7 linked regions of the Homo sapiens genome follow. The protein of the gene in region 4 interacts with the protein of the main gene of each other region in a pairwise test. Each region holds a gene or a part of one and is shown on either strand. Other genes may lie near its edges.

What was found.
Region 1: the proteins of ZNF587 (region 4) and FST interact in binary tests that used the Homo sapiens proteins (3 or more experiments, as listed by UniProt).
Region 2: the proteins of ZNF587 (region 4) and TRIM36 interact in binary tests that used the Homo sapiens proteins (3 or more experiments, as listed by UniProt).
Region 3: the proteins of ZNF587 (region 4) and KATNBL1 interact in binary tests that used the Homo sapiens proteins (3 or more experiments, as listed by UniProt).
Region 5: the proteins of ZNF587 (region 4) and PDE4DIP interact in binary tests that used the Homo sapiens proteins (3 or more experiments, as listed by UniProt).
Region 6: the proteins of ZNF587 (region 4) and BEGAIN interact in binary tests that used the Homo sapiens proteins (3 or more experiments, as listed by UniProt).
Region 7: the proteins of ZNF587 (region 4) and CCDC125 interact in binary tests that used the Homo sapiens proteins (3 or more experiments, as listed by UniProt).

Annotation. Positions count from the first base shown.
Region 1 is NC_000005.10:53,483,446-53,488,232, reverse strand, and holds the end of FST (follistatin isoform FST344 precursor), read right to left. Parts: intron 4,730-4,787; coding exon 4,511-4,729; intron 4,165-4,510; coding exon 3,940-4,164; coding exon of another isoform or gene 3,901-3,939; intron 3,237-3,900; coding exon 3,006-3,236; intron 2,547-3,005; coding exon of another isoform or gene 2,545-2,546; exon of another isoform or gene 2,306-2,544; coding exon of another isoform or gene 2,283-2,305; coding exon 2,200-2,282; 3' UTR 1,099-2,199; downstream 1-1,098. UniProt on the Homo sapiens protein: Multifunctional regulatory protein whose primary function is to antagonize members of the transforming growth factor beta (TGF-beta) superfamily including activin, myostatin, GDF11 or bone morphogenetic proteins (BMPs).
Region 2 is NC_000005.10:115,131,605-115,135,885, forward strand, and holds part of TRIM36 (E3 ubiquitin-protein ligase TRIM36), read right to left. Parts: intron 2,544-4,281; coding exon 2,256-2,543; intron 2,066-2,255; coding exon of another isoform or gene 2,061-2,065; exon of another isoform or gene 2,019-2,060; intron 1-2,018. UniProt on the Homo sapiens protein: E3 ubiquitin-protein ligase which mediates ubiquitination and subsequent proteasomal degradation of target proteins. Involved in chromosome segregation and cell cycle regulation. May play a role in the acrosome reaction and fertilization.
Region 3 is NC_000015.10:34,153,970-34,158,250, reverse strand, and holds part of KATNBL1 (KATNB1-like protein 1), read left to right. Parts: intron 1-3,566; coding exon 3,567-3,607; intron 3,608-4,281.
Region 4 is NC_000019.10:57,859,541-57,863,200, reverse strand, and holds part of ZNF587 (zinc finger protein 587), read right to left. Parts: coding exon 3,061-3,660; 3' UTR 1-3,060. UniProt on the Homo sapiens protein: May be involved in transcriptional regulation.
Region 5 is NC_000001.11:148,969,574-148,973,854, reverse strand, and holds part of PDE4DIP (myomegalin), read right to left. Parts: intron 1,676-4,281; coding exon 1,511-1,675; intron 1,345-1,510; coding exon 1,263-1,344; intron 1-1,262. UniProt on the Homo sapiens protein: Functions as an anchor sequestering components of the cAMP-dependent pathway to Golgi and/or centrosomes.
Region 6 is NC_000014.9:100,538,769-100,542,434, forward strand, and holds part of BEGAIN (brain-enriched guanylate kinase-associated protein), read right to left. Parts: exon of another isoform or gene 1,812-3,666; coding exon 1,728-1,811; exon of another isoform or gene 1,362-1,727; intron 852-1,361; exon of another isoform or gene 548-851; coding exon 1-547. UniProt on the Homo sapiens protein: May sustain the structure of the postsynaptic density (PSD).
Region 7 is NC_000005.10:69,325,952-69,330,232, forward strand, and holds part of CCDC125 (coiled-coil domain-containing protein 125), read right to left. Parts: intron 1-4,281. UniProt on the Homo sapiens protein: May be involved in the regulation of cell migration.

The sequences.
Region 1 (4,787 bases), on a different chromosome or scaffold from region 4:
AATTTTGAATAACTATTCATATTAAAGAGGCTTTTTACAAAAGGGATAAACTTTTAAGAAGAACTTGGGTCATGGTGTTTGAAAGAAATGATATGTTTATTATTGTTTAGCGATGCTGGTAATATTGACTATACTTTGCTCTTTCCCTCCCACAGTCCTGATACTTCTTTACATCTTGAATTTCTGATATTTTAAATATAATTAGGCTTTGAATATGTAAGTACATAATTGGAATTGGAATTGAATCAGAAACTTGTGTTGATGCTCCAGTTATATATTCCTATGCATTATATTACAGGGACTAGTGAATGATGGCCCAAATGCCAATCTGAGGCTTGCATCTTGTACTTCTTTGATATTTTTAATATATTTAGGCTTTGAGTATGTAGCACACAATGAATTGGAAACTTATGTTTATGATCTAGTTATGTATTCCTATGTATTACAGGGACCATTGACTGATGTCCTAAACACCATTCTGAAGCTCTAATAGTGTCTAGTGTAAACTGTGAAATATTGATACACTTCCTCTTACAATGAGTGACATTATTTGATCCCTAACCATGGACATCATTGTGGAAATTCACCTCCACCCCATCCTCACCTCATCAAGTCCCTAGCATTCCAACACTATAATGTCTACTTCTGCAGCTGATATTCTGATTTCTAGAATGTGTTTGTCAAATATTATATCTGTTGTCAGCTTTCCTTGTGATGTGTGTTGTTTTTTAAAAGACTGAAACTGCACTGGATTTATGGGAAAGTAAGATGAAGCGTGTCCCTGGCTATGGTGATGAGCTTGCAACAAGGACAGCTAAAACGATGGTGTTTTTAAAGAGGAAATATTAGCCTTGGCATATTGCAGGAAAGAACCCACATCTACAGTCTGTTCCTTCTGTGGTTAGTGACAGGTATATGCCACTCCTACAGTGGGGTTGCTGGACCTCAGATCCCTTTATCTTTCAAACTCCAGTGAAGTGATCTGTACTGCCCTGGCCATGTAATTTCAGAGATAGCTACATTCCTCAGCAAAGGTATCATACACATTTTTACTCAAAAGTCCAAATAACTTCTTTGCATCATCAGGAATTGAAACCATTGGCTTTTTAAAATTTTTTTATTTTTTCACTCATCATTTATTTACAAATACACATTATAACTTTTATATACATTGCACATTTACATGGTAGAAAAGTACAAAACTATATATTTAAATGAATTTATATTTTAACTTGCCATGTTTGAAAATATAAAATTGCATCAGAAAAAAGTATTATGAAAAGCAAGAAACTTGAACTGATAAAGCTTTGATATAACTTTTAGTGATATACTGGTTGAAAAAGAACTAATTTAAAAGGTACAGCTGAGTAGCTTAAAGGAAACACCTAACAAAAGGTTGAATGTGTAGCCTTCAACATCCTTTAGTCTCCTGACACCCACATCATTTCTTTGTATCTGTAACATCTTAAAAGTACATTACTAGAATTCTAATCATCTCCTCTCTCACAAATGTCTTCATCATAACAAAAGAACTGAAGTAGGAGTTTCCTCAAAGATGCTTATCTTCTGTACCTTGTATTTGAGTCAGAGTTATAATGCCTTTTGGTCAGTCAAGGTTCCTTGTAAACAAAACCCGAGGGATCATGTATGTACAGATCAGGCAGCAGAGAATCCAATAAATAAACATGACAGAAACTGACATGCAAGTTTGTTGAAAGTGGAAAAGAGTCTAACAGTGAAATGAAGGGAGACAGATGAGTGAGTGAATAGTAAGGAATGGACTTAAATGGTTTACAAGGAAAAAAAGCTTTTACTTTACAAGCAAGAGACCTCACAATAAATAACAACTGCTCTTCCTTTCACGAATAAATTTCTTCAAAAACAAGGTATACAGTCAACCAGACATTTTATGTATAAATTATAAAACATGACACAGTATAAATAAATGTCTACAAGTCTCAACTATGGGCCTCATCCAGTAGACCTCACAATGAATGCCTCTCCGTGTCCAATGAGTAACAAGGTGGCCTGGGAGAGAGCTTTAGGACAAAGGTCCTTTAATGTATAGTTTTCCCCCCAAATAAATAAGCATACACTTATTTACAGTATGGACAATATATTTTTCTTTTTTTCTTTTTCTTTTTTTTTTTTTTTTTTTTTGCACAAAGGCTATGTCAACACTGAACACTTATAGAGAGTTTACCACTCTAGAATAGAAGATATAGGAAAGCTGTAGTCCTGGTCTTCATCTTCCTCCTCTTCCTCGGTGTCTTCCGAAATGGCTAGATGGGGGAATACAGGGGAGCTGTTGTTTAAATACGGACAACAACAGCGCAGAAGCAGCTCAGTGTATGTTTTCAAAGCCCTCTGATACAGCCATATTACAGCGTTGCATTTTTATGTGACTTGCAGTGAGATGCTTTTTTTGTTTTTGGCATCTGCTGTTATGCAATAAGTTAAAAAAATTTTTTTAAAGCATAATCTATGAAGTCAAAAACTGCAGAAAGTTCTGAAGAATCAATGGCTCAGGTTTTACGGGCAGATTCCTGAAATTAGATAAAAAGCGCTCTTGTGTTCTAGGTATAACTGCTTTGGGTCCTTAATTCAGAGTTAGTAGAGGCAACTGCAAAAAGCAGCAGCCCATGTGTGATAATATGAAGCTGTCGTTGGAAAAAAAAAAAAAAAACTTTTGAAGCAGTTAGTTTAGACTCAAATGTTAATAAAGCAAACAGCAAAGCACACTACCAAAACACAAGAAATAGGGGAAAACAACTGGAAATAGATTTCTAGAGGCAACCCCATTGATGATCACCAGATAAGTCCTAAAAGCCAAGAAACATCGCAGAGAATTTTCTGTGGATTATTGAATTGCTGGTGATACTTAGCAGCTACCTAATTTGAACAGAAATGGATTTATGGGAGATCTGCGTGCTTTGTAAGTGTCCATTCCCTAGGGATTGCCTGGGAAAGCCTTAAATGGCAGCAAGGTTAAAAATCGCACTTACAGTTGCAAGATCCGGAGTGCTTTACTTCCAGTAGCACACCTGAGGAGCAGGCAGCTTCCTTCATGGCACACTCGCTGGCATAAGTGGCATTGTCACTGGCACAGACAGGCTCATCCGACTTACTGTCAGGGCACAGCTCATCACAGAGGGAACACCGGCCTCTCCCAACCTTGAAATCCCATAAACATTTTTTCCCACCAGTGCACTGGATATCTTCACAGGACTTTGCTTCTAGGATATAATACATCTGTGATGAGTAAACTGATTTCCCCATATCCCCCTTTTCTCCCTTTCTCTAGTCCTCTATCAATAAATATAAACATAATTTATTTTATATAAACATAATAGTAATAGCCTATTACTAATGGGGGTAATGGAGATATTATGCAAAAATGCTGGATAATAAAACTGAAACTCAAATGCACACACACATACACACGCACAAAACCCCTGCAGTTTCTTACATACTACATTAGTGCATTAAAAGGGTATTTTTTTAAGAACAGGATTTTACAATATTCTCAAGTTAAATATGTATCTTATTATTTCCCACAAGTGGGATCTTTTACAAAAGAAAGAATTCCATTAATTACTAGAATCTGACAACAGATTTCTGGAACTGCTAAGTAATTATTTTTCGCTTCCAGCAAGTCTGGCACTTAAAAAAATGTGTAAAATTGAGTAAGTTCTAAGTTTTCTAAGACGGAATACTGTTCCTTGCTTCCTGCTGGCATTTGAATATATGTGTCAATGCCTCCAGAAGACAATGGTTTCCATGAGGAATACTGTGGTCACAACACTTTCCCCAAATTGCAGCGTATTTCTCCCTATGGTGTTTGGGGACGCCTTGGGCTTTACTTATTAGTTAACCCCACAGTTTAATAATAGAACTAGCCTGTTTTCTCTTTTTCCTTCCTCAATCCAGAATACCTACTGATACACTTTCCCTCATAGGCTAATCCAATAGATCTGCCCAGCAGGCAGGTAGCCTTTCTCAGGTGGCAGGCACTGGAGTAGGTGACTCCATCATTCCCACAGAGATATTGCTCAGAGGAAGCAGGCTCTGGGCAAATCCGATTACAGGTCACACAGTAGGCATTATTGGTCTGGTCCACCACACATGTGGAGCTGCCTGGACAGAAAACATCCCGACAAGTCTCTGGAACAAAGAAGGAAACACACATGAATAGGTACCTTCTAGTCCTTAGGGAGTGAGCACTTGAAGTTACCAAGGAAATCATGACACTGAAGCATCCAGCTTTCAAAAGGCACTTAGGGAGCCCTGTAGTTTTCAAGAGAGAATCTATGACTAGGTTGGTCCCCTCAGTGTTCTTAATGAATCTCTAGAGGTTAGAAAAGGACTCCTTTATTTGGTTTCAGTATTACTATTATCAGGCTCTTACTGCGGACTACACCATCCCCCAAGGGTCTTCTAGAGGGTCTACTTTAGGTACAAAGCTGGAGGAGGGGACAGATCCAGTCTTGCTCAACAGGGTAGGACCTACTTTTACATCTGCCTTGGTACTGGACTTCCAGTTCTGGCTGCTCTTTACATCTTGCCTTTAGGAGTGCACATTCATTGCGGTAGGTTTTCCCATCCAGCCCGCAGACTGGACCCTTCCAGGTGATGTTGGAACAATCCGGGGCGCAGACGCAGCGGGGTTTGTTCTTCTTGTTCATTCGGCATTTTTTCCCAGGTCCACAGTCCACGTTCTCACACGTTTCTGTGAGTTAGAAACAGGCATGGATTAAAACCAGAGCCAGGCAGTCTGCAGGTCAGCC
Region 2 (4,281 bases), on a different chromosome or scaffold from region 4:
TACATACAATGGAATATTATTCAGCCTTAAAAAGGAAAGATTTGGATACATGCTACAACATGGATAAATTTGGATACATACATTTGGATACATGCTACAACATGTATGATACATGCTACATGTATGGATAAATTTCGATACATGCTACAACATGGATAAATAAGCCAGATGTAAAAGGACAAATATTGCATTATTCCAGTTATATGAGATACCTAGAATAGGCACATTCATAGAGACAGAAATTAGAATCAAAGTTACCAGCCTCTGGGGAGAGGGGAAATAGGAGTAACTGTTTAATGGGTACAGGGTTTCAGTTTAGAATAATGAAAGTTAAGGAGGTAAAAGTGGTGATATTTAAACAATACTGTAAATGTACTTAATGCCAATGAGCTGTATACTTAAAAACTGTTAAGATAATACATTTTATCTTTATTACACCACAATTTAAAAAATGACCCCCAGGCATCATAGTGCACACCTTTAGTCCTAGCTACATGGGAGATAGGAGGATTACTTGAGTTCAGGAGTTTGAGGCCAGCAAAGGCAACATAGTGAGACCCCATCTCTCTCTCTCTCTCTATGTGTGTGTGTGTGTGTGTGTATATATATATATACATATATATATATATTTTAAACAGGCTGCTAGCAGCTGGGCCTGGTGGCTCACGTCTATAATTCCAGCACTTTGGGAGGCCGAGGTGGGTGGATCACTTGAGGTCAGGAGTGTGACACCAGCCTGGCCAACATGGTGAAACCTGGCTCTACTAAAAATACAAAAATTAGCCAGGCATGCTGGTCTGCATCTGTAATCCCAGCTACTACTCAGGAAGCTGAGGCAGAAAAATTGCTTGAACCCAGGAGACAGAGGTTGCAGTGAGCTAGTGAGCTGAGATGGTGCCACTGTACTCCAGCCTGGGTGACAGAGCCAGACTCCACCTCCAAAAAGAAAAAAAAAAAAAAAAAAAGACTGCTAGCAAACTACAGCCATTACCCACGTGTGAGCTGACCATTCTTCCTGCTAATGCCTCTTTTCCTGGCATGATTATTTGTGCTTGCTCTCAATCTCAAAAGTCTCCCAGTTTGCAAAATAAATTTAAAGGGTCACCCTAGTCACGTATCTTCTCTCATAAAAAGGAAGACAACTGTTAACACTTCCTCTCCTCCCTTCCCCTCCACTATGTGACTGAAAACAGCAGTTATGTCCAGGTTTTTCTTCCACTTTCAGGCAGAAAGACTAGAAAAGGAAGCAGAAATAGCATAAACCATAAAATAGTTACTTAATACCTGCAAATTCATCCCAAAACTCTCTATTGGATTTGATTAAAATTTAAGAAATATAATTTTAGCCAATCTTCCATGTTTGTATTCCAATTTTTTAAAAGCTACAATGTGCATGAAAAACAAATTGTGCTTTTCTATTTTGAACAAAAAAGGAAGAAAGGGGAGAGTGAAGAAAATATGGGTACATAAGACACTAAAAAGAGGCAAGGGACAGTGGACCTAAAATCCAATTAAAGGCATCTCTGAGGCAGTGACTGAAAGGGGAAAACGTTTTCCTGCTAACCAGGCTGAGCACAATTTTGGTTCTAAATATCCCTTGTTCATGGAGACATCATAGTGAACATCAACGAACCTTTAAAGTCATTCACATTCTATAAAAATCTTTAGGCGCTCTATATGTAGTATCAGTGGTTTTTAACTTGGGAAGGGAGGGGGCGATGACTGGGCATAAGGAGCTTTTAGCGTGGGAGGAAAAGCTATTCATGTGGTTCTAATATATGGCTTCCATCCCTATTATCTGAGAAGTGCCTAGTTAGATAAAAAAATCCAGACAAATCAGAATTAGGTTAAATCAAAATTATATTTTAGGATATTAGACCAATAAATTTTAAAAATTATGTTTTAGAGATTTCCATAAACCAAAAATACAGAATTATATATTTAAAACTTTTAAAATAGCATTTATGCTATTTAAATCCCAACTTACTAGCTCTGCTCACCCAAATTTCTTCCTTCCATGTTTTTCTCTATCTGACATCAGTTAAAACCCAATCCTGTTCTCAGCCTACAAGGTAAAAATTCAAGTACTCAGTTCATTTCTAAAGCCCAGCTGGGATAGAAGCTACTTTTCTGGAGTCTTTTAAAAACAAGAGCTGGTTTCAGTGCAGGTCTACATGGAGATACTGACTAGTTTATTTTATCAAGGTCTCTTGCAACTAACTCTATGCTTTTTTTATTCCTGATATTCACCATACCTGGAGCTGGAGGAGTATGAAGAATCAATTCTCTGCTGCAAGGACTACAGATTGAACCCTTGTAAGCTCTTACTCTGAAAGCATAGGTACTACTGTTTTCCAAGTCTTGAATTATTTTACTTGTTCCACACACTTCTATCTCATTCCATGACATTTCATCATCTCTATTGATTTTCCGATATTCAAGAACATAGCTATCAGCTTTATCCTTTTCTGGATGGTGCCAATTTATCAAGGCATTGTTATAAACTTTGCTCTGTTCCTCATTGATCTCTGGCACGTCTATGCCTGAAAGAATTATGAAATAGAAAACAACATTAAAATATTGACATTTGAAAACCAGTGTTTTTCCTCAATAAAATGACATATAAACAGTATTTAATGATTTCTATACTAATACTTTTCTAAATTTATAATACTATATATAGAAAGCACAAAAATTAAATATATTAAATATTTTTTATATTTAAAAGGTATATCTATATTTGTAACTGAAAGGAGAAAGAAGAGTAAAAAAGACAAAAACTGACTCAAAGCCACAAGTAAATTTTTTTTAACCACATGCCTTCTACCTACTGAATAACAGCCCAGGACTTGAAATTTTTTTACCTATGTCCTCCCCTAAACAAACTATTATTTTAATATTTTAAAATCTAAGTCTGGTAAGAATATCAAACTCTCAATGAATTTTTTTTTTTTAAGATGGAGTGTTGCTCTGTTGCCAAGGCTGGAGTGCACTGGCATGATCTCAGCTCACTCCAACCTCTGTCTCCCAGGTTCAAGTGATTCTCCCGCCTCAGCCTCCCAAGTAGCTGGGATTACAGGTGCGTGCTACCACACCTGGCTAATTTTTTGTATTTTTAGTAGAAACAGGGTTTCACCGTGTTAGCCAGGATGTTCTCGATCTCCTGACCTCATGATCTGCCTGCCTTGGTCTCCCAAAGTGCTGGGATTACAGGCATGAGCCACTGTGCCCGGCCTCTCAATGAATATTTTATCATTTCTTTGCATAGTTTATTCTGTAGAGTTGCAAAGCAAATTAATTTTTCTAAATAAAATCATGGTACATATTTTTATAAGGAAATCAGAAACTGAAAAATACACATTAAAAGATTTTAACTAACTCAAAGGTAATTACTATAACCTTTTTGTATAGATCTCGCCAGTATTTTCCCCCTCAATGGTATACTACCTACATGGATATATCAACATTTAACTGTTTAGTTTTGGAAACAGGTTTCTGGTTTTTCACTAAAAATAAAATGATTCTAAATCTTTATTCATATGCAAAGTCCTTTCTATAGAGCCAATTCCCAAGCTTAACTGCTGGAATCATATGCTAAGAACAATACGCTATAAAAGCTACACACACACATTTATGACAAATCACAGAGAAGGACATGAATAAGAAGCAGAAGTCTCTTTCCTCTCCTTATTCCCCAATGTATAAGCATTTCTGTGTATGCTGCATTTATACAACTGAATGTTATGCAGCCATAATGAGATCTGGAAAGTTATTCAAAATACATTTTAAAATTTAAAAAAAAAGTTACAGATTAACAAATAGTATGTCGCCTACCCCATACTCTTTTTCTTTCTTTTTTTGAAACATAGCTTACTAAAAAAAAAAAAATGCATGTAGCAAAAAATGAGGGGAAGATCCATCAGCCAGAAGCTAGGTGACTACTATCCCATTCTCATCCACCTGTTTTATTGGTTCCTTGCTATACAGTGGTATAACCCAGGATAACCCACCCTCAACCTTACCTTTCCAGCAACCATTTTGGGATCCACAGGGAGGGAGGACCTAGGACTCACAAGTAAGCAAATATCTATTTGTATATATACTATTCAAGCATACATTTTGGAAACACAGTATAGTGTATGAAATACAATCAGCATTTTAAGTGATGACAAATATCTATTTGAAAAAATAAGACGGTCATAGTAAGTAAGTATCAGATTCAGGTATAGATTTGAAAAGGAGGTCACAGTAATCCTTCAGAGTTTTAAACTTTTAACAAGA
Region 3 (4,281 bases), on a different chromosome or scaffold from region 4:
TGCATCAAGAGACTCATTGGGGACCTCAAGCTATGTGTGATGCAGTCCTTTGGGTTTATGGATGTGTAGCAATTTACACTTTGACATGACAGGTTACAGATAGTTGCCTAGTATTTAGGATGACTAATAAGCAGACCCTCAGAAAACCACCTCTTAGGGGAAGGTATCTGGAATTAAGACTGTTCCAAAGTATCCAAGTTGATTACGCCAAGATGCCCCAAATTGGTTGTCTAAAATATTTATTAGTAATAGTAGATCACCTTACTCATTGGGTAGAAGCTATTTCCTTTCAAGTGCAACTGCTAATAATGTAGTCAAAACATTAGTTGAAAATATTATACCCAGGTTTGGATTAATAGGAAACATTGATTCAGATAATGGAACTCATTTCATTGCACATGTCATTAAGAAATTAGCCCAGGTACTGGATATAACATGGGAAATCATACTCCCTGGCACCCACCTTCATCAGGAAGAGTGGGGAAAAAAATGAACCAAACTCTAAAAAGCCACTTAAGCAAATTAGTCTTAGAGACTCGGTTGCCATGGACTAGATGCCTTCCCATTGCCCTGTTGAGAATCCGAACTGCTCCTCAGAGAGATGTTGGCTTATCCCCTTATGAAATGTTGTGTAAGTTGCTCTATTTGCACTCCGCTGCTGACATTCCCATGTTCGAAACAAAAGATCAGTTTCTCAGAAATTATATACTTAAGTTTATCTTCCACTTTCTCTTGCCTCAGAACTAAAGGTCTTTTAGCACAGGCACCACCCCTAGAGTTTCCAGTACACCAACATCAGCCTAGGGACCACATCCTTGTCAAAAGTTGGAGGGAAGGAAAACTTGAACCAGCTTAGGAAGGACCCTGCCTAGTGCTTCTAACCATTGAGACCACAGTTCAAACAGCAGAAATGGGATGGACTCATCACACCCAGGTCAAAAGAGCACCACCTCCTCCAGAATCATGGGCAGCTATTCTAGGGCTTACTCTAACCAAGCTAAAGCTAAAACGGGTTTGATCCTCTTATGTTGCATCTCTTCTTTTCCCCATCTATTGCTAGTCCTCTTGTTATTAATGTAACTAGGTCGAGTTCACCCCAAACTATTACCTTTGATGCTTGCCTTGTGATGCCCTGTGGAGATGTGCCAAGCCAGAGGCAACTCTCCACTTCAGAAAAGTATCTTTGTCCTTCCTAGCTCTTCTCAGACTGGAATTCTGTTAACTGGGATAAGTTAGCTTGGGAAGAGTTTGACGGAGATTCCAGTATAAACTGAGAGTCTTGCCTTCCCAATACAAAGCTTTTATGCTGTAGTTGGTCCAACATTCTGTGGACCACTAAAGAGCAAGAATAGATTGCCCCAAGCAGTAGTTGTAATTTCCTAAAGCTATACATTCATTTTACTAAAGGAACAGCTTCCCCTAACTGTCAGCTAAATCAGTACAATCCAGTACAGGCTATTATCTCAAACCCTCTAAGTTCTTCCCCTTCTCTAAGCCAATTTCCTTCTTTAAGCCAGTTTTATAATATGGGGGCTGAGGTTTCAGGAGCAGACCCTATCAGATCCTTTGAAATATTCTTCATTGCTCCCCCACCGCCTACACCTTCCCCTAAGCCTTCTTCCAGAACCTCCCACAACAAAACTGTTGTTCTTCCTCCATCTAATGACAAGACGAAGGTAGCTATTGTAGAAGTCAAAGTCCTAAAAGAAACTTTAGCAATTGAGACGGGATATCAAAATGCCAATGCCTGGTTAGAATAGATAAAATATTTCATCCGCACTTTAAACAAAAGCAATTGTTATGCTCGTGCGCATGGCAGGCCAGAGGGCCAGATTGTCCCCTTTCCACTATGATGGTCCTCCAGTCAACCAGGCATGGGCTGTATGGTAGCTCTTTTTCCAGGATTCCACAGCCTGGGGTAACAAGTCGTGCCAAGCTCTTTCTCTGCTATATCCCGAAGTTCAAGACCCCACAGGTTAGCCCCCGAGGGCCATCCAGCTTCTGTCTCCCGACACTGAGTTCATTTTGTGTCTCTCACGACAAAGAGGAAACTTAGCATCCCTTAGAGACCTAAAAGGATGCGGTGAGCTTAAGACTTTCCAAGAGCTCACCAACCAGTCAGCCCTTATACACCCCCGAGCAGATGTATGGTGATATTGTGGTAGACCTTTGCTGGACACTCTGCCTAGTAACTGGAGTGTCACTTGCGCCCTAGTGCAGTTGGCTATCCCTTTCACCCTGGCATTTCATCAACCAGAGAAAGAAAAAAACACAATGTCATAAAGCAAGGGAAGCCCCTTATGGGTCTTTCGACTCCCACATTTATTTAGATGCAATTAGAGTCCCACGAGGAGTACCAAATAAATTTAAGACCTGAGATCAAATAGCTGCTGGATTTGAGTCAATATTTTGGTGGGTGACAATTAATAAAAACGTAGATTAGATAAATTCCACCTATTACAACCAACAGCGGTTTATTAACTATACTAGAGATGCTGTTAAAGGAATAGCTGAGCAATTAGGGCTTACTAGCCAGATGGCTTGGGAAAATAGAATGGCCTTAGACATGATTTTAGCAGAAAAAGGGGAAGTTTGCATCATGATTAAAACTCAGTGTTGTACCTTCATCCCAAACAATACCGCCCCTGATGAAAGTATAACAAAGGCATTGCAAGGTCTAACTGCTCTGTCCAATGAGTTAGCAAAAAACTCAGGAGTAAATGACCCCTTCACAGGGTGGCTAGAAAAATGGTTTGGTAAATGGAAAGGGATCACAGCCACCATCCTTACTTCTCTTGCAATTGTAGCAGTAGTGCTTATCCTTGTTGGATGCTGCATCATACCTCGCATCCGTGGGCTAGTCCAAAGACATACAGAAACAGCCCTTACTAAAACTTCTCTCAGTTCCCCTCCACCATATTCTGACAAGCTCTTTCTTTTAGAAAACCAAGCAGAACAGCTATGCCAAGACATGTTAAAGAAATTTGAAGAGGAAGACCTGTAAAATTCAAAAGGGGGATATTGTTAAGTACAGTGAGTTCTGAGTTCCTCTGGGAACCAGTATGTCAGTATGTTCAGCTTTCTTATACTTTGTTCTCCATTTTAAAGTTTAACTTCCTCATTCTTTACACCTCCTTGCCCTAGTTTCAGTAAACAACCCCCTTCTAGCCTTTATACTCACATATTTAGAGTCCTTAGTCATCCTTAGTCACCTGCTCTGTCCTTAGTCATCCTTAGTCACCTGCACTGTAACCATCCTTCCTGCCTAAACTGCTCACCCCGCCACTCTGCCTCATACCCAGATAGCCTATCAGAATTAGTTTAGACTGTGCGGTCCAACCCTAGCCAATAGGGGAATGACACAGTAGTAGGGACTAGCTGCATTAGGGATAAGAACCCCTTCTCCTCCCATGCCCGGTATGCTCTTGCGACCACTCCAGGCACGATTGGCACCCTTCTGCAGAAGTAAATTGCCTTGCTGAGAAAGCTTTTTGCCGGAGTGCTGATTCTTCTTTGCGGCACCAAGCATTTGTTTCTAACATCAACTATCTACTTTCATTTTTCAGGTTAAGAAATCTCCAAAACAGTTGGCTGCTTACATAAATAGGTAAGAGTTTCTTTAAAGTTTGTGGGGAACAACAAATATGAAAGCTGGGTAAGGATGACAATAAGGGAAAAATAAGCATTCTTTTATCATAATAATAATTAACTTATTGTCAAACAGCTTCTTTATGCCAGTATCTGCACTAATAAACACATCAATATTGTCTCTGCTCCTTACAACAGTCCTACTCTATAGCCTACTCTATAGATAACATTAACCCTAACAGTTGATGAGAAAACTTAAGATCAGATAAGTTAAATGATTTGTTCAGAATCATATAGCTAGAAAAGTGGTAAGAATGACATTCATTCTCAGATCTGCCTAACTTCTAAAGGCACTTTCTACAAAACGACTGGTTTTCAAAGTGTGATTTGAGGACCTGCGGGTCCCTAAAGACCATTCATGGAATTTGTGAAGTCAGAATTACTTCCATAGCAATACTAAGACATTGACTGTCTTCATTTTCATTCTCTTGTTTGAGGGTACAATATAATTTTTCAAGAAGCTATATGCCATTTGATATCACAGTAGATTGAATGGAGAAGCAGAAATGAGAACCCAGCTGTCTTTTGTTAAACCAGATATTAGAGATATATAAAAATGTAAAACAGTACCATTCTTCTCACTTTTTAAAAAATTATTTTAGAAAATATGGGTTTTGGGTAAGATATTCCATG
Region 4 (3,660 bases):
AAGTTGCAGTGAGCTGAGATTGCGACACGGCACTCCAACCTGGGCAAGAGAGCAAGACTCTGTCTCAAGAAACAAAACAAAAAAATTAAGCTGACGTGGTGGGCGCTTGTGGTCCCAGCTACTCAGGAGGCTGAGGCAAGAGAATGGCGTGAACCCGGGAGGTGGAGTTGCAGTGAGCCGAGATCGTGCCACTGCACTCCAGCCTGGGTGAAAGAGTGAGACTTCTCAAAAAAAACACAAAGTGTCCACTCAATAACTTTGCTTGAAACTGTCTTCATGTTCTTCACTTCACAAATATAAAGCTGTTACAGTGGACTTTGTGAGGTTCCATGTTTTTGGTCAGCCATAAGAGGAAGAATAATTCAGAGTGAGAGGAAACAGATTCTAGGCAGCCCTCAGGGAAGTTGAGGAGGTGGCACCCTGCCTCCGGGTCCCTCAGAATGTCCCATCTCCCTGTCAGTATCAGTGTCCCAGATAATCTTCTTCTGATTGGGACATTTCCCTGGGAACAGTGGTTACTTGCCAAATTCACATTTACGGCCAAAACTGTGGCTGCAGTGTCGACATTCATGCAAGTGGGGAAATGGGCATGTGACCCCTGAAAAAAGATTCTGGATTCCATAATCTCACCTTGCTGAGAAGAAACTGCCATTTCAGCAGAAAGTGCAATGACAGTTTCTGCACAGGGACTGGAGATTATCTCTAGAAAAGAGCTTGGAGTGAGGAAATTAGTTAATGTGGATGAATGACGTTACCCATGGAGAATGAAGTAAGTAGCTAGAAGACAAAAGCCTCAGAACACATAAATCTCAATGGGTATTGAGTAGAGGACTCAGAGCTCTGAGATAATTGGAGCTCATGGCTATCCTAGAACTTGGATAACATAAAGTTCTTGTTTCTACAAAGTGTGTATCCTTTCCATATGTGAGAACTGTGAGGAAGTACAAACTTGGAACAAAAGAAATAGTAAGGTAATCTTAGAAAGATGTTGAAAAGAAAGCTATGGTGGCATCTTAACTGTTTCACTGCCTGGCAATCTATATGTATTGTCACTTTGGGACGCTTATGATTCCACATGAAGTGGATAACCAGCTCATAGTTCTTGTGGTACTGAAAACCAAGTATTCAGCCAGGTACAGTGGCTGACACCTGTAATCCCAGCACTTTGGGAGGCCGAGGCAGGTGGATCACTTGAGCTCAGAAGGTAGAGAGCAGCCTGGGTAACATGGTGAAACCCCATCTCTACTAAAATAAATAAATAAAATTAGCCAGGTATAATGGCACATGCCTGTAGTCCCAGCTACTCAGGAGGCTGAGGCAGAATCGCTTGAACACAGGAGGTGGAGGTTGCAGTGGGCCGAGATCATGCCACTTCACTGTAGCTTAGGAGACAGAGCTAGACTCCATCTGGAAAAAAAAAAAAAAAAGAAAACCAAATATTCCTTGCAGCAAAGTGACATCACTGAAGAATGAATGAAGTCCAACATACGTCTTTGTTATTTCATTATTTTTAAATATATTAATGAAATGGGAAATAGATAAAATTCATTTTAAAAAACAAGCCTACAGGTGAGGCCAGGCAGGGTGCCTCACCCCTGTAGACCAAGCACTTTTGGAGCCTAGGCAAGTGGATCGCCTGAGCCCAGGAGTTCGCGATCAGACTGGGCAAAAAGGTAAAACCCTCTCTACAGAAAATACAAAAGTTATCCAGTTGTGGTGGTGCATACCTGTATTTCCAGCTACTCTGGAGGCTGAGGTGGGCAGAGTGCTTGAGCCCAGGAAGCAGAGGTTGCAATGAGCTGAGATTGTGCCACGGTACTCTAGCCTGGGAGACAGAGCGAGACTTTGTCTCAAAACAAAAAAAATGCAAAACATAAACCACTGACTCAAAAGTTATAACCACTTATTAAAATAATAAACAATTTCAAATACTAACCATACTCCCTCTTGGTAAGATAGAACAGAAATTCTTGGACACTGATGGTAGATAGATATACAAATGAGCAATAATTTCATTCTTAAGTCATAGTTTGGCATTGCTTAAAAAGTTGTACATTAGGCCAAGCACAGTAGGTCACACCTGAGAAGCTGAGGCAGGCAGATCACTTGAGGTCAGTTCATAACAAGCCTGGCCAGCATGGTGAAACCCCATTGCTAATAGAAATAAAAAAAAAAGTTATCCAGGCATGGTGGTGCACACCGGTAATCCCTGCTACTCGGGAGGCTGAGGCAGAAGAATCAGTTGAACTTGGGAGGCAGAGGTTGCAGTGAGCCGAAATCATGCCACCTAACTCCCGCCTGGGTGACAGAGTGAGACTCTGTCTCAAAAAAGAGTTGTACTTTAATCTATCACGTGACTCAGGCACTGCACACCACCATATTACCATAGTGAAACATACCTACATGAACAACTGCATTCAAATATAGCAGTTTCATTTATAACAGACAAAAACAAGAAGCATGTCATTCTTTTTTCTTTTTGTAGAGAGGAGGTCTGGCTATGTTGCCCAGGCTGATCTCTAACTCCTGGCCTCCAATGAACCACCTTGTCCTCCCAAAGCATCAGGTTTACAAGCATGAGCCACCATGCCTGGTTCAGCATGTCATATTCTAAGCAATACGAAAAGAATGAAGGCCAGGTGCAGAGGCTCATGCCTGTAATTTCAGCACTTTGGGAGTCAAGGTGGGTGGATCACTTGAGGTCAGGAGTTTGAGACCAGCCTGGCCAACATGGTAAAACCCCATCTCCACTAAAAACACAAAAATTAGCTGGGCGTGGTGGTGTGTACTCATAATCCCAGCTACTCAGGAGGCTGAGGTAGGAGGATTGCATGAACCCAGGAGGCCCAAGTTGCAGCGAGCCAAGACTGCACCACTGCACTCCAGCCTGGGTGACAGAACAAGACTCCATCTCAACACGAAGTCGCTTAAGACCGAGGACAGCAGACATTCTGATGTTTTCCACATTGACAGCACTCATAAGGCCTTTCTCCAGTATGAACTCTCCTGTGTTTAACGAGACGGGATGCTTCAGCAAACGATTTCCCATATTCACTGCACTCATAAGGCCTTTCTCCTGTGTGAACTCTGATGATGAAGGAGGGTAGAGCTTCGCTGAAATGTTTTTCCACATTTGGTGCATTCATAAGGCCTTTCTCCAGTGTGAATTCTCCTGTGTTTAATGAGACTGGAACATTCAGAAAAGGATTTTCCACATTCACTGCACTTATAAGGCTTTTGTCCAGAATGAACTCTTTTATGAACATGAAGCGCAGAGCTGGAAAGAAATGATTTCCCACATTCACTGCATTCATACGGCCTTTCTCCAGTGTGAATCCTCTGATGTATAGTCACGCTGTGCTTATTGCCAAATAATTTCCCACATACCTCACACGCATATGGCCTTTCTCCAGTGTGAACTCTCTCATGAACCAGAAGATGATACTTCCTGTTAAATAATTTCCCACATTCCCTACAATTGTAAGGTCTTTCCCCAGTGTGAAGTCTCTGGTGTTCAGTGAGGTGGGATCTGTACCTAAATGATTTCCCACATTCCTTGCACTCATAGGGCCTTTCTCCAGTATGACCTCGCTGATGGTGAACGAGGTTGCCCTTTTGACCAAAAGATTTCCCACATTCTCCACACTTGTAAGGCCTTTC
Region 5 (4,281 bases), on a different chromosome or scaffold from region 4:
AGCAAATAGATAACAAAACCATCCAGAAGATAATAAAAAAATTAATCCAAATAATTTTTGAACTCACTACTACTCTAACTGAACACTGTCAGTGCAAAATATCCTAAGGATAAAAAGAATTACAAAAAAATCTTAAACATTACTTAATACATTTATTGTTGATGGTGATATTTATGTAACAATTCCAAAAATACTTTTGCATATTATAGTATTCTGCAACTGTGTAAATATTTTGAAATATATTGATGCTATAAGTAACCAGGGCTCTCAAGGAGATACAAATATGAAATGAGGGAAAAAAGAACCTATATTGTTAAATTGGAATTAAGGAAATCAGTATCAAATCTTCACATATATACAAATACACACATACATACTTAAAAATATTCATTGCTAGTTCTGTTCTCTTAAAAGGGCCTAGAAGCGGCTGGGCGCAGTGGCTCACATCTGTAATCTCAGTACTTTGGGAGGCCGAGGAGGGCGGATCACGAGGTCAGGAGATTGAGACCATCCTGGCTAACACGGTGAAACCCCGTCTCTACTAAAAATACAAAAAAATTAGCTGGGTGTGGTGGCTGGCGCCTGTAGTCCCAGCTACTCGAGAGGTGAGCAGAGAGATCGTGCCACTGCACTCCCACCTGGGTGACAGAGCGAGACTCCGTCTCAAAAAAAAAAAAGGTCCTAGAAGCAAAAGGCATTCATGTAGCAATGAACACATCTTGTGTCCAGATCATAGTTTCTGAATGCCATTACCCACCAAAAGGAACCAGGGAGCTCTTTAGGATAATGGCTGATTCTGGGACTGAGGCAGGTAAAGCAAAAGGTAATCATAGAACATCTTATTGTGCCAGAAACTATCAAACTATGCTAACATTATATATATATATAACATTAGTAGGTGATGTCAAGTTACAGTGAGTGGCCCCAGACTTGAAACGATACCCAGGAAAAGGTGTCAGCTCATGGCCCTGCTGTGCAGGATTGGAACAATTACCTCCTGCATTTCTGAATCCCTGCAAAGCTATCTGAAAAGGAGAGTAAGGATAGAATTTCTCTGGGCCGAATTGTGAACCCAGAGCAATCAGCTCAACTCAACATAAGGTAAGGACAGTTCTTCAGCCTTTCAGAGGAATTCCAAACTTATTTGTTCTATTAAGGTAGGAAGAGAAAAGAGTCTTGGCCAAACCTATAATACAGAGATTACTAGAAGAAAAAACAAGAGAAAAACAAAGTCCCTTAATGAAATGAAATTTGATACTTACCTAATGTGGATCTGGGTATGCTGACATCCTCTTTGGCAGTCAATGAAGTGCTATCATCTCTGGAAGGTATCTGCATTGAACCCTAAAAAATTGCAAAAGTCAGGGGACTTAGGAAGATGCAGGAACTATGATCACAATGACAGTACTGAGAATATTCTCAGAATTTGGTATTAAAATTATCAAACTTACACCTCAAATGTAAAAAGGAAATGGAATCAGCATGAATTATGTAAGTCTATAGTTCTTACTTGATCAGTCTGTTTTCCAAGACGGCCAGTGGGGGTAACTTCAGCTTGTTGGTTAGAGATGGGTGCTTGGGACATCAGGGAGTCTCTCCCTCCTAAATATTGGCGCAGGGCCTGTAATTCTGAATTTCTTTCCATTAAGGCTTGCACCAACTTCTCTGCAGCAGCCTAGTAAGAGGAAATCACAAATAACATTATAAAGATATTCTAGTAAAACAAATTTTTTGTTCTGGTATTATTTCTTCAAAGTCAACCATTTGTAAAAAACAAACAACAATGACAACAACAAAAAACAGTGGGTCCTTAGGAAATAGTTTCCTTGCTTTCAGTTTACAGGGAAAAACAGAGTTAAGTGAATGGAAAGAAAGTCTCATAGGCAGAATATTGGGAAAAAAAACTGAATTTAACACATCTGTAACAGATAAGAGAATCTGAAATAGGTTCTGCTACAACTATCAGGCTAAGGTGTTAAGATTCTGGTTTGAATTAGTATAACAAATGTCTTTATTCTCGGATAGTTGCTTCTTAGGGGTGGATTCCTTTTCACTCAAACATTTGTGTGGTTTGCTCCCTTCAGGTCTTTGCCAAATGTCACCTTATCAGGTTGGTCTTTCCTGCGTATCCTATCCAAAACAGCAATCTTGCTGGCCAAAGTATAAGATGAATATGTTTTGGGGATCCAATGATAGCATGGTGACTTTAGTTAATAATACTGTATTATTTACTTGAAATTTGCTAAGAGAGTAGATCTTAAGTGGTTTCACCATACACGCATAAAATGTGTAGTGACGGATGTGTTAATTTGTGGCAATCACTTCAAAATGTATATGTATATCAACACATCATGCTGTACACCTTGAGTATATACAATATTTGTCAATTATACTTTAATAAAGCTGGGAAAAAATTTTTTTTAAAACCCAGCAATCTCTTCTCTATCTCCAACACTTCTTACTGTGCTTAATTTTTTTTCGATGCACTTACCATTATCTAATAGATCTCTCTCTCTGCTTCCCCTACATGGAATGTAAGTTTCCTAAAGGCAATTTGGTGCTGAATCTCAAGCACCCAGTACGGTGTCTGGCACATAATAGGCACACACTACATATTTACTGAATGAATCAATTACGCACATAAACATGTTTATCAGACCACATGATTAGGATAATCTCAACCTCAAAATCACCCAACTCAGCTTGTTTCATTTCAAATCCCAGTTTTCTAAGACAGATGATGACACACTAAGGGAAAGATCTAGAACATTTTTAACTATTAATGCACAGGAAGTCTGCATTTAAACAGAAAATCTGGAAATAATAAATTGATATTAAAATTACTGAGGGTCTAAGATGATGAATCATAACACCAACTGTCTCTGAGGAAAAGTACTATTGTTTTAGGGCAGAAGCTGAGCTCTTGTCACAATTTCTAGGGGAAATATGAAAAAACCTTCCACTTTTCAGTAAGTAAAATTTGGGCTCTTTGGAGATTTGAATTTAACTATTTTAGACGTATCAGAATATTATTAAAGTACCTTAATAAAAATATCTGTGAAAACTGTGGGGAAAAAACATAATAAATAATATACAAGATATATACTGTGCTCTATCTGCCTTGGCACTCCTTTTCTCGTAGTATTTAAGAGTTTTTAGCAGTGCTCCTCCAATGCAGTCCCCGAACCTGCAGCATCACTATCACCTGGAAACTTGTTAGAAATGCAAATTCTTAAGTCCCACCTATACCTCGTAATTTCTTTCTCTGGAGTTGAGCTCCACAATCTACATCTTTAAAAAGCTATTCAGGTGATTTCTTTTGCACGTAAATTTAGAGAAGCAGATCTAGAAGAATACAACCATTAATCTTCTTGAGTTGAAAAATCTCCTGTAATTTCCATCATCTCCATTATTCTATTACCAGCAGTGCATAATTTTTTTTCTGAGGTATAATAAAGACCAATTGTCCCAAATCACAAAGAAGTTAAAAAGAAAACTCAAAGATCCTAGCCTCTTGCCAAAGATTTAAATAATTTAGAATAATTTTGTTAGGTCTATTTTAGAAACAATTTCTGAAGCACACAGCAGGACCTTTCTAGAAAGATGTGTATTTACTTCAGTGGGCCTAACAATTAGAATAGTGGAGTATAATCCTTTCACAACATAAGAAAACATAAGAAAATATTATGGGGTCAAATAACATAGGCAAAAAAGAGTCTATCTTCCTCTAAAAACTGACTACGGGGATTCTGAGCTACTGGTATCTGAAATGCAGCACAAGTCAACTAAGAGTTTTTAGCCTTGAGGAGAAAACACATAGAAATGAGGAAAAATTAACACTTTACTATGGGCAGGGCATGGTGGCTCACGCCTGTAATCCCAGCACTTTGGGAGGCTGAGATGGGTGGATCACTTGAGGCCAGGAATCGTAAGCCAGCCTGGCCAACATGGTGAAACCCCATCTCTACTAAAAATACAAAACTTAGCGGGCATGGTGGTGCATGCCTGTAATCCCAGCTACTTGGGAGGCTGAAGCAGAAGAATTGCTTGAACCCAGGAGGCAGAGGTTGCAGTGAGCCAAGATTGCGCCATCGCACTCCAGCTGGGTGACAGAGGGAGATGCCATCTCAAAAAAAAAAAAAAAAAAGAATTTACTTCTTAAATATTGTGAAATTAATATACCCTGTACTATTATGAGATTGTTTATTCTCACCATGACCTCTGAAAAATGCGATCTTTTTTCCCTCTTAACTCAGATTTTACAAAAACTAAGAGTAAACA
Region 6 (3,666 bases), on a different chromosome or scaffold from region 4:
TCAGGTAGATGGCCTGCTGCGACGCGGTCAGCGTGCTGGCCTGCGCGTGCTCCTTCTCCTCCGACGTGGCGCTGAAGCTGGAGTAGGAGCTGGACGTGGGCAGTGAGCCTGCGTAGCTGGGGAAGGCCTCATGCTGGAAGCCCGCCGGGAAGGCCGCCGCCTCGGCCTCCTCCTCCTCCTCGGCCGCGCTGTCAGTGGAGTTCTGGGCCCGCAGGAAGCCCACGTCGGTCACGGGCGCGTCCACGCTAGGCCGCCGGTCTCGCCGCCGCTCCTCCGGGCAGTAGAGGGCTGTGTCACTGCAGTAGATGTCTCCCTTGTAGGGGGGCCGCGGGCCTGGTTTCTCCACCCCGTCGCAGAAGGCCAGGTCGCGGGCGGAGGCATCGGACAGGCGGGAGGACAGGCTGGCGGGGTCCGGCTTCTCCAGCACCTTGGCAATGACGCAGGTGGGGACGCTGTCGGCGTAGGCCGGGTGGCAGAGCGGGGATGGCAGGCTGCAGCCGTGCTTCTCCATGTGCAGGCTCACGCGCTCCTGGAAATCCGAGGGCAGCTGGAACGGGTGCGAGGAGGGGGACGGCGGGTACAGGGTCACTGTTAGCATGGCAGCCCAGCCCTGGCCCTGAAGCTGAGGACTGATGTTAGCCATGACCGACAGGCAGACAGACGAACGGGGGCCTCCCGGCTTCTCAAATCACACCAGGGGGAGCCTGGATCCAGGACGCTGTACTGAACAAGCTCCCAGGGGTGTGGGTGCTGTGACTGCCTGGGGATCCTGGGTCACCTCTCCCCACCCCACTCTGATTGGGCCCAGGAGAGCCCAGAAGCTGCAGTCGCCTGGAGAAGCCGGAACCCAGGTCTGATTCAGGCCCCACTCAAGGCTCCACCCCCCGCCACCCCCACCCCACCCATTTTGTGCCCAGCGAGGGGTTGACTTGCTCTCCCAGGCCCGTGGGTTCTGTGGGTTCTACTGGGGGCATGACCCACTCCCCAGCCCCCCAGTCATGCTGCTGGAGCGCTCCTGAAGAAGACAGACTCAGATGCAACAAAGATTGAGGGCCAGGGCTGAGAGCGCCTGGTGCCATGTGGGGGTGTCCCGCTACTGTTTGATCTATTTTGTGAGTGTCTCAGGCATGGCCCAGGACCAGGGGAAAGGAACGCACAGGCCTGGCTGGGAGATTGCATGTGAGGGGAGGGTCGGGGGACGGGGTGCGCAGGGTGCGGCGACCATAGGCGGGCAGGGGTGGGCCTCTGGCCCATCTGCCCTTGGCATCAGACAGGCCTGGTTCTGGGTCCTGGCTCTGCTACCTGCCTGCCACGTGGCCTCAGCCACGCCCTCTTTCCTGAATGTTTTCTTTCTGAAATAGGCACTGCCGGTCATCGTGCCCAGCCACAGGCTCCTGCGAAGCTCCACAAAGGTCACTCTGCCGTGTCAGCGCTCAGTGGAAGCAAGGACCTGGAGCAGCCCCCCAAAGGAAACCGAGGGCAACCAGCAGCCGGGGTGGGCCAAAGGGACTCTGGTGAGGGCCAGGGGCTGCCCGGCTGCGTGAGGTGGGGTGCCTTTGGCGGCCCCTCCAATGTCATGACCCCACAGGAGCGAGGGGGACAGAGGAGGCTCAGGCTCAGCTGGCATCTTCCTCCTCAAAGATGGGAAATGGCTTTGGGGTAGCACTGGCACAAAAGGAGCCCGGTGGTCCCGGGGCGGGGTGGGCCTGGCTGCGGGGCCACGTTACCTCAGACACCTTGTGGACCCTGCCGTAGGTCTGGCTGCACTGCAGCAGCTGGGCCGCTAGATTGCAGTCCTTCCTATAGAGCTCCTAAAAGACAAGAGAAGGCGTTTGGCGCCATTCACCCCAGCCAAGGCCCCGCCGCCCTGACCAGCGCCAAGTGGCCAGCGGGGGCAGTGGTGTGCACAGGGCCTGCTGTGCGCTCAGCAGGACAAGGACCCACTGCTGGCTCCGGCCCTCTCTGGCCTCCACACTCTTGCCTGCAAAATGAGAGCCTCTTTCTGACCTGGGGCTGCCGGAGCATGGAGGGCCCTGCCGCTGCCCTAGCTGGTGCCCTTGAGCACTGCCAAGATGGGAACCTCCCACAAGGTGGGGGGCAGTGGTAGAAGAAGGAGCCCCAATGGCCCTGAGCTCCCCCAGGCTCGTAGAGCAGGCCTGGTCTCCCTGTCCCTGTCCCTCAGGCTCTCGGCGTCCTTCCAAAGATGACGGGGTGGGAGTGCCAGGCAGGAATGGGAGGCAGGATGAACCCCCAGCACCTTCCACCCCGCACTTCAGACTTGCTGCTCACAACCCTCTTCCCAGAGTGTGGTTTGGAAACAGTGTGGCTGCAGGGCTGGGCAGGGACTGGGCAGGTGTGTGACCTCAGGCCCAGGCGGGCGCTGGCTCAGCCTCCTGAGCTGAAAACAGATGCAAACAGTAGGACTCAAGGGGTGTGGCTTCGCCACTGAAAATCTCTGTTGCATGTGCCTGTGTTTGGGGCTTGCATTCCCGCCCCTCCGGGGTCCCCACTGCGAGGGCTCTGACAGCTAGCCCTGGGGTGGCCCGGAGGCCCAGTGACCCACCTGAGCTGCCCCATGGCTGCTCCTGGCAAGGGCTGGCCACAGTCCCAACCCAGCCAGCACCAGGCATCCTGCTGTCCAGGCAAGGCTGTCTCTGACACAGGCACCTTTCTGTCCCCCCACCACGGCCCTGGAGCCTCCCTCACTGAAGGCTGGTGCCCCCAACTTGGCCTACACGGTGGAGGGCGTCGGAGTCGCCAAACCCCTCTCAGTGCCTCCCTGGGCCTCCTAGGAACAGAACAGCACGGCTGCCTGAGAGCTGAGAACTGACCCCTTGTATGACCCCAGTCGACCGGCTGCCCCTGGCACCAGAGGGCTGCAGGCACTGCCCAGCCAGCCCAGGTCTGCCACTGAGCCCCACCAGCCACAGCCAGGAGTGGCTGCCACTGGGAAGCCGGTGCCATGCCCATAGCCCCTGGGGCACCTGGCTGAGTACCCAAGCCCCTGGGCTGTCCATGTCTGAGGTGGCCAGCTCTGGGACAGCTGGGAGCCTTTCCTGAGCAGCCGCAGCTGCTGGCTCGGGGAGGAAATGCTCACGGGACACTCTGGCAGAGCGAACAGGTGGAGGCAAGCACTCTGGCCACCCAGGGCCCGGGGCTGCTGGAGTCGGAGTCCCGAGGTTGAGTTCTGGCTCCGTCTGCGAGACACCACCTGGGTCACCTGGGAAACCACTCAAGCTGGCCATGCCTTAGTTTCCTCATGTGCACCAACCCTGCAGAGAGGGCCCCAGGACTAGTGTCCACTTAGGTAAGGGGCCTGGCCTTGTCACGTTAAGAAGCACCTCCTGTCCCGAGCCCATGTCCTCCTGTCCTCCTGTTAGAGCCACACTCCTTAGAAGGGTGGCCTGTGTCTGGAACCACCGCTCCACTCCACCACCGACCTCCAGTTCCCCAAATCCCAATGCCTCTCCTTGGCCCTCTGACCTGGTCTCTCAGCAGCTGGCAAGCCAGCCGGCCAGGGCATTGACTGCAGCCCCCTTCTCAAGTGGTTGTTGGGCCACCATACTCGCCTGGTGTCCCCCAGCCTACTGGCCACTCCCTCCCAGGCATCCTTGCTGGTCCCTACTCCGTCCTGGGGCCTCCCTGCTTCTCATCTGCATGCTGCCT
Region 7 (4,281 bases), on a different chromosome or scaffold from region 4:
TCCCACCTCAGTCTCCAAAGTAGCTGGGACTACAGATGTGTACCACCTTGCCAGGCTAATTTTTAATTCATTTTGTAGAAACAGGGTCTCGGGCCAGCCAGTCTTGAACTTTTGACCTCACGGGATCCTTCCACCTCAGCCTCCCAAAGTCCTGGGATTACAGGCATGAGCTACCACCCCTGGCCCAGAGACAGATTTTTAATCCAGATATCTGATGTCAGAGCCAACACTCTTAGCCACTGTTTTGTATTATTTGGAGAATTTCAATGAAATTAACATCAGAGTATACCAAGTTTCTATTATTTATGACTTCAAATAGAACTTAAAGTAAAAGTCTAAAATATCTAGTTTGAGCAACATCTAACAGATTCTGGATCCACTTTTTCCCAGATTTTTATAAAATCATCTTGGTTCTTTTACAAGATTATTTCCTTAAAAAGGAGATTTACCTATTTTGTCAAGGTAGATAAGAAGATATTTATTGAATCAAAGAATAATCCCTTGAGAGGCTGTGTTTTACCTCTAGTGCAGTAGACTCCTGCTTGTTAAGGGCAACCTCTGGCCTGTGTTAAGAAGGGTGTGGTCAGGATTAGGCAGGCAGCAGAGAAGAAAATGGAATTGGTCAATATAAGGGGGAAAAGCTGTAAAAGGAAAGAGTAAGCAATTGTAGAGTTAGCTAAGAATATTTTTCAATGCACCACATAAATTCAGGCATCATGGGTACGCCTTCCTGCTATTCAGAGTTGAATATAATGAGGTTTTGTTGTTGTTTTGTTTGTTTTTTATCCCTGCCTACTGTTTCTTAAACTTAACTTCAGGCTGGGAATGGTGGCTCATGTCTGTAATCCCTGAACTTTGTGAGGCCAAAGAAGGAGGACTGCTTGAGCCTAGTAGTTCAGACCAGCCTGGGCAACACAGTGAGACCTCATGTCTACAAAAAAAGGAAAAAAAGAAAACTGCTGGGCATGGTGGTGCACACCTGTAGTCCCAAGCTACACGGGAGCCTGAGGTGGGAAGTCAAGGCTGCAGTGAGCTGTGATCACGCCACTGCACTCTAGTCTGGTCAACAGAGCAAGACCCTGTCTCTAAAAATAAATAAAATAAAATGTAACTTCAGGGACTGCTGACTGTATATTCTCCCACTTTTTTTTTTTTTTTTTTGAGACAGCGTCTTGCTCTGTCGCCCAGGCTGGAGTGCCCTGGCGAGATCTCGGCTCACTGCAAGCTCCGCCTCCCGGGTTCATGCCAGTCTCCTGCCTCAGCCTCCTGAGCGGTTGGGACTACAGGTGCCCGCCACCACGCCCGGCTAATTTTTTGTATTTTTAGTAGAGATGGGGTTTCACCGCGTTAGCCAGGATGGTCTCGATCTCCTGACCTCATGATCTGCCTGCCTCGGTCTCCCAAAGTGCTGGGATTACAGGCATGAGCCACCCCGCCTGGCCTATTCTCCCACTTTTTATATGCTGATAGTAAGGTAACATGAAATACCATACAAATTAAACTTCACTTTTGAAACACATTACTTCCAAGAAAGTGAAAATATTTGAAGTCACTAAACTATCCAACCAGTTTAATGTATTCAGGGTTGATGACCAGGGAAGCAGCAGGATGTGTTAACGGAGAAGGCACTGACTCGAGAGGTCTGGGTTCAAATCTCACTTCACCACTTGCCACTTTTTGATCTTGGGTAAGTCATTTAACTTCTTAGAGCCTGTTTTATTTCTTAACAGGGGTTTAAGCATAACTACTTTATTGGGACATTTTTGGGCACCACTGATATATTTGAAATCAACTATGGTAGCCAAATCAATGTTTATTGAATTTGAATACTATTTTCTTCAATTGTCAATTTAGGGGACTAGATTTTTGGTTCTTCAGAGCTCTAAAATTGTTTCTGTATCAGCATTTTCCAAAGTGTGCTCCATGGAACATGTTCTCCAGACTATTAGGTTTTGCTAGGAATAAAAGTGTCCTTTTGGTTTTATTGAGGGCTGGAGTGCAATGGCGCAATCTCAGCTCACTGCAACCTCCGCCTCCCAGGTTGTAGCAATTCTTGTGCCTCAGCCTCCCAGGTAACTGGCATTATAGGCACCTGCCACCATGCCCAGCTAATTTTTGTATTTTAGTAGAGACAAGGTTTCACCATGTTGGCCAGGTTAGTCTCAAACTCCTGACCTCAGGCCATCCGCTCACCTCTGTCTGCCAAAGTGCTGGGATTATAGGCGTGAGCCACCAAGCCTGGACTTTTTTTGTTTTAATTTTTTAAATTAAAATGAGTCTGTATTTATGCCTGTTTTATGTTCAATGCATTCAGCAATTTACTCTACCATTTAATTTCTAATTGGACAAAATTAGAAAATAATAAAATATGTTGAACAATAAAGAAATAGTTAAATCTTGGTTTAACAACTTTATAAAATACTATGTAATTAAACAAAATTAATTAAATAAGTATTAGAGTTATAGTGTATTTAACATAGTTTAAGAATAATCTCCAGCCTGGGCAACAAGAGTGAAACCCCATCTCAAAAAATAAAAATAAAATAAAAATAAAAATAAAAATACTATGTAGTATAGACTAGGCAGCAACATGATAAATGCTCACATATACAAGTGTAAAACATAAAAAGCAGAATTCAAAGTTGTCTGTACTAGAACAAAGATTAGAAGAAAAACAAAAGATAAAAATAAATTAGTAGGATTAGAGTATTTTTCCATATACCATTTTTATAATATTGTATTTTAACAGTACTACAAAATCTAAGAATATCTACAGCTGATTCTGTACTATATGGTAATCTTGAATAGATAAACACAGAGGTTCCTTCATACTTTATACGTTTGACTTTTTTTTTTTTTTGAGATGGAGTCTCGCTTTGTCACCCAGGCTGGAGTGCAGTGGCGCCATCTCACCTCACTGCCAGCTCCGCCTCCTGGGTTCACACCATTCTCCTGCCTCAGCCTCCTGAGTAGCTGGGACTACAGGTGTCCGCCACCACGCCCGGCTAATTTTTTGTATTTTTAGTAGAGATGGAGTTTCACCGTGTTAAGCAGGATGGTCTCAATCTCCTGACCTCATGATCCGCTGGCCTCGGCCTCCCAAAGTGCTGGGATTAGAGGCGTGAGCCACCACGCCCGGCCTACCTTTGACTTTTAAAAGACGACTTGAACCAACATATCAATATATGCTGTCTAAAATAGATGTGTCAACGTTTAGGATTAAAGTATTTATTTTTATATGGACAGAGTCTCAGTCTGTTGACCAGGCTGGAGTGCAGTGACAGCTCACTGCAGCCTCGACCTCTGGGCTCAAGTGACCCTCCCATCTCAGCCTCCCGAGTAGCTGGGACTACAGGCATGTGCCACCACACCTGGCTAATTTTTTTGTTCTTGTAGAAGCTAATTTTTGTATTTTTTGTAGAGACGAGGTCTCCTTATATTGCCCAGGCTGGTCTCAAACTCCTGGGCTCAAGCAATCCTTCTGCCTCGGCCTCCCAAAGTGCTGAGATTACAGGTGTGAGCCACCATGCCCAGCCAGGATTCAAGTCTTTTTTTTTTTTTTTTTTTTTGAGACGGAATTTTGCTCTTGTCACCAAGGCTGGAGTGCAATGGCGTGATCACGGCTCACTGCAACCTCTGCCTCCTGGGTCAAGTGATTCTCCCACCTCAGCCTCCTGAGTAGCTGGGATTACAGGTGCCTGCCACCACACCCAGCTAATTTTTGTATTTTTAGTAGAGATGGGATTTCACCATGTTAGCCAGGCTGGTCTCGGACTCCTGACCTCAGATGATCCACCTGTCTCGGCCTCCCAAAGTGCTGGGATTACAGGCATGAGCCACCGAGCCCAGCTCGGATGTATTTTTTTCTATTCCAGCCCAGGCATACGTGACTTGCCCCAAATACAATGGTAATTAGCAGCAGAGCCAGGACTAGAAACAATATTTCTGGCTCTTTGTCCAGTCCTCTGGCCACTTGGGAAAGGCTGTAGGATGAATAGATTACAGTCTGTTAGCAGTCGTCTCACTTTTCCACTAAAACAACTCTTTAAAAGATGACCAGTGACTTCCTCATAGATAAATCCAAGATCAAGTTTCATTCCTCAGTCTCCTCTACCTTTGCAGGAGCTGTGACACTACTGACTCACTAAGTCCAGGTCCACCTGACTCCTGAAGCCCCTAGAAATAGAAATCTGATCCTCCTCCTTCCCTGACTCATATCTTCTCATATCTGTCCTCTAAGGCTCTTTTTCTTTTTCCTGTCCCTTTTGTAAATGTTTGGCT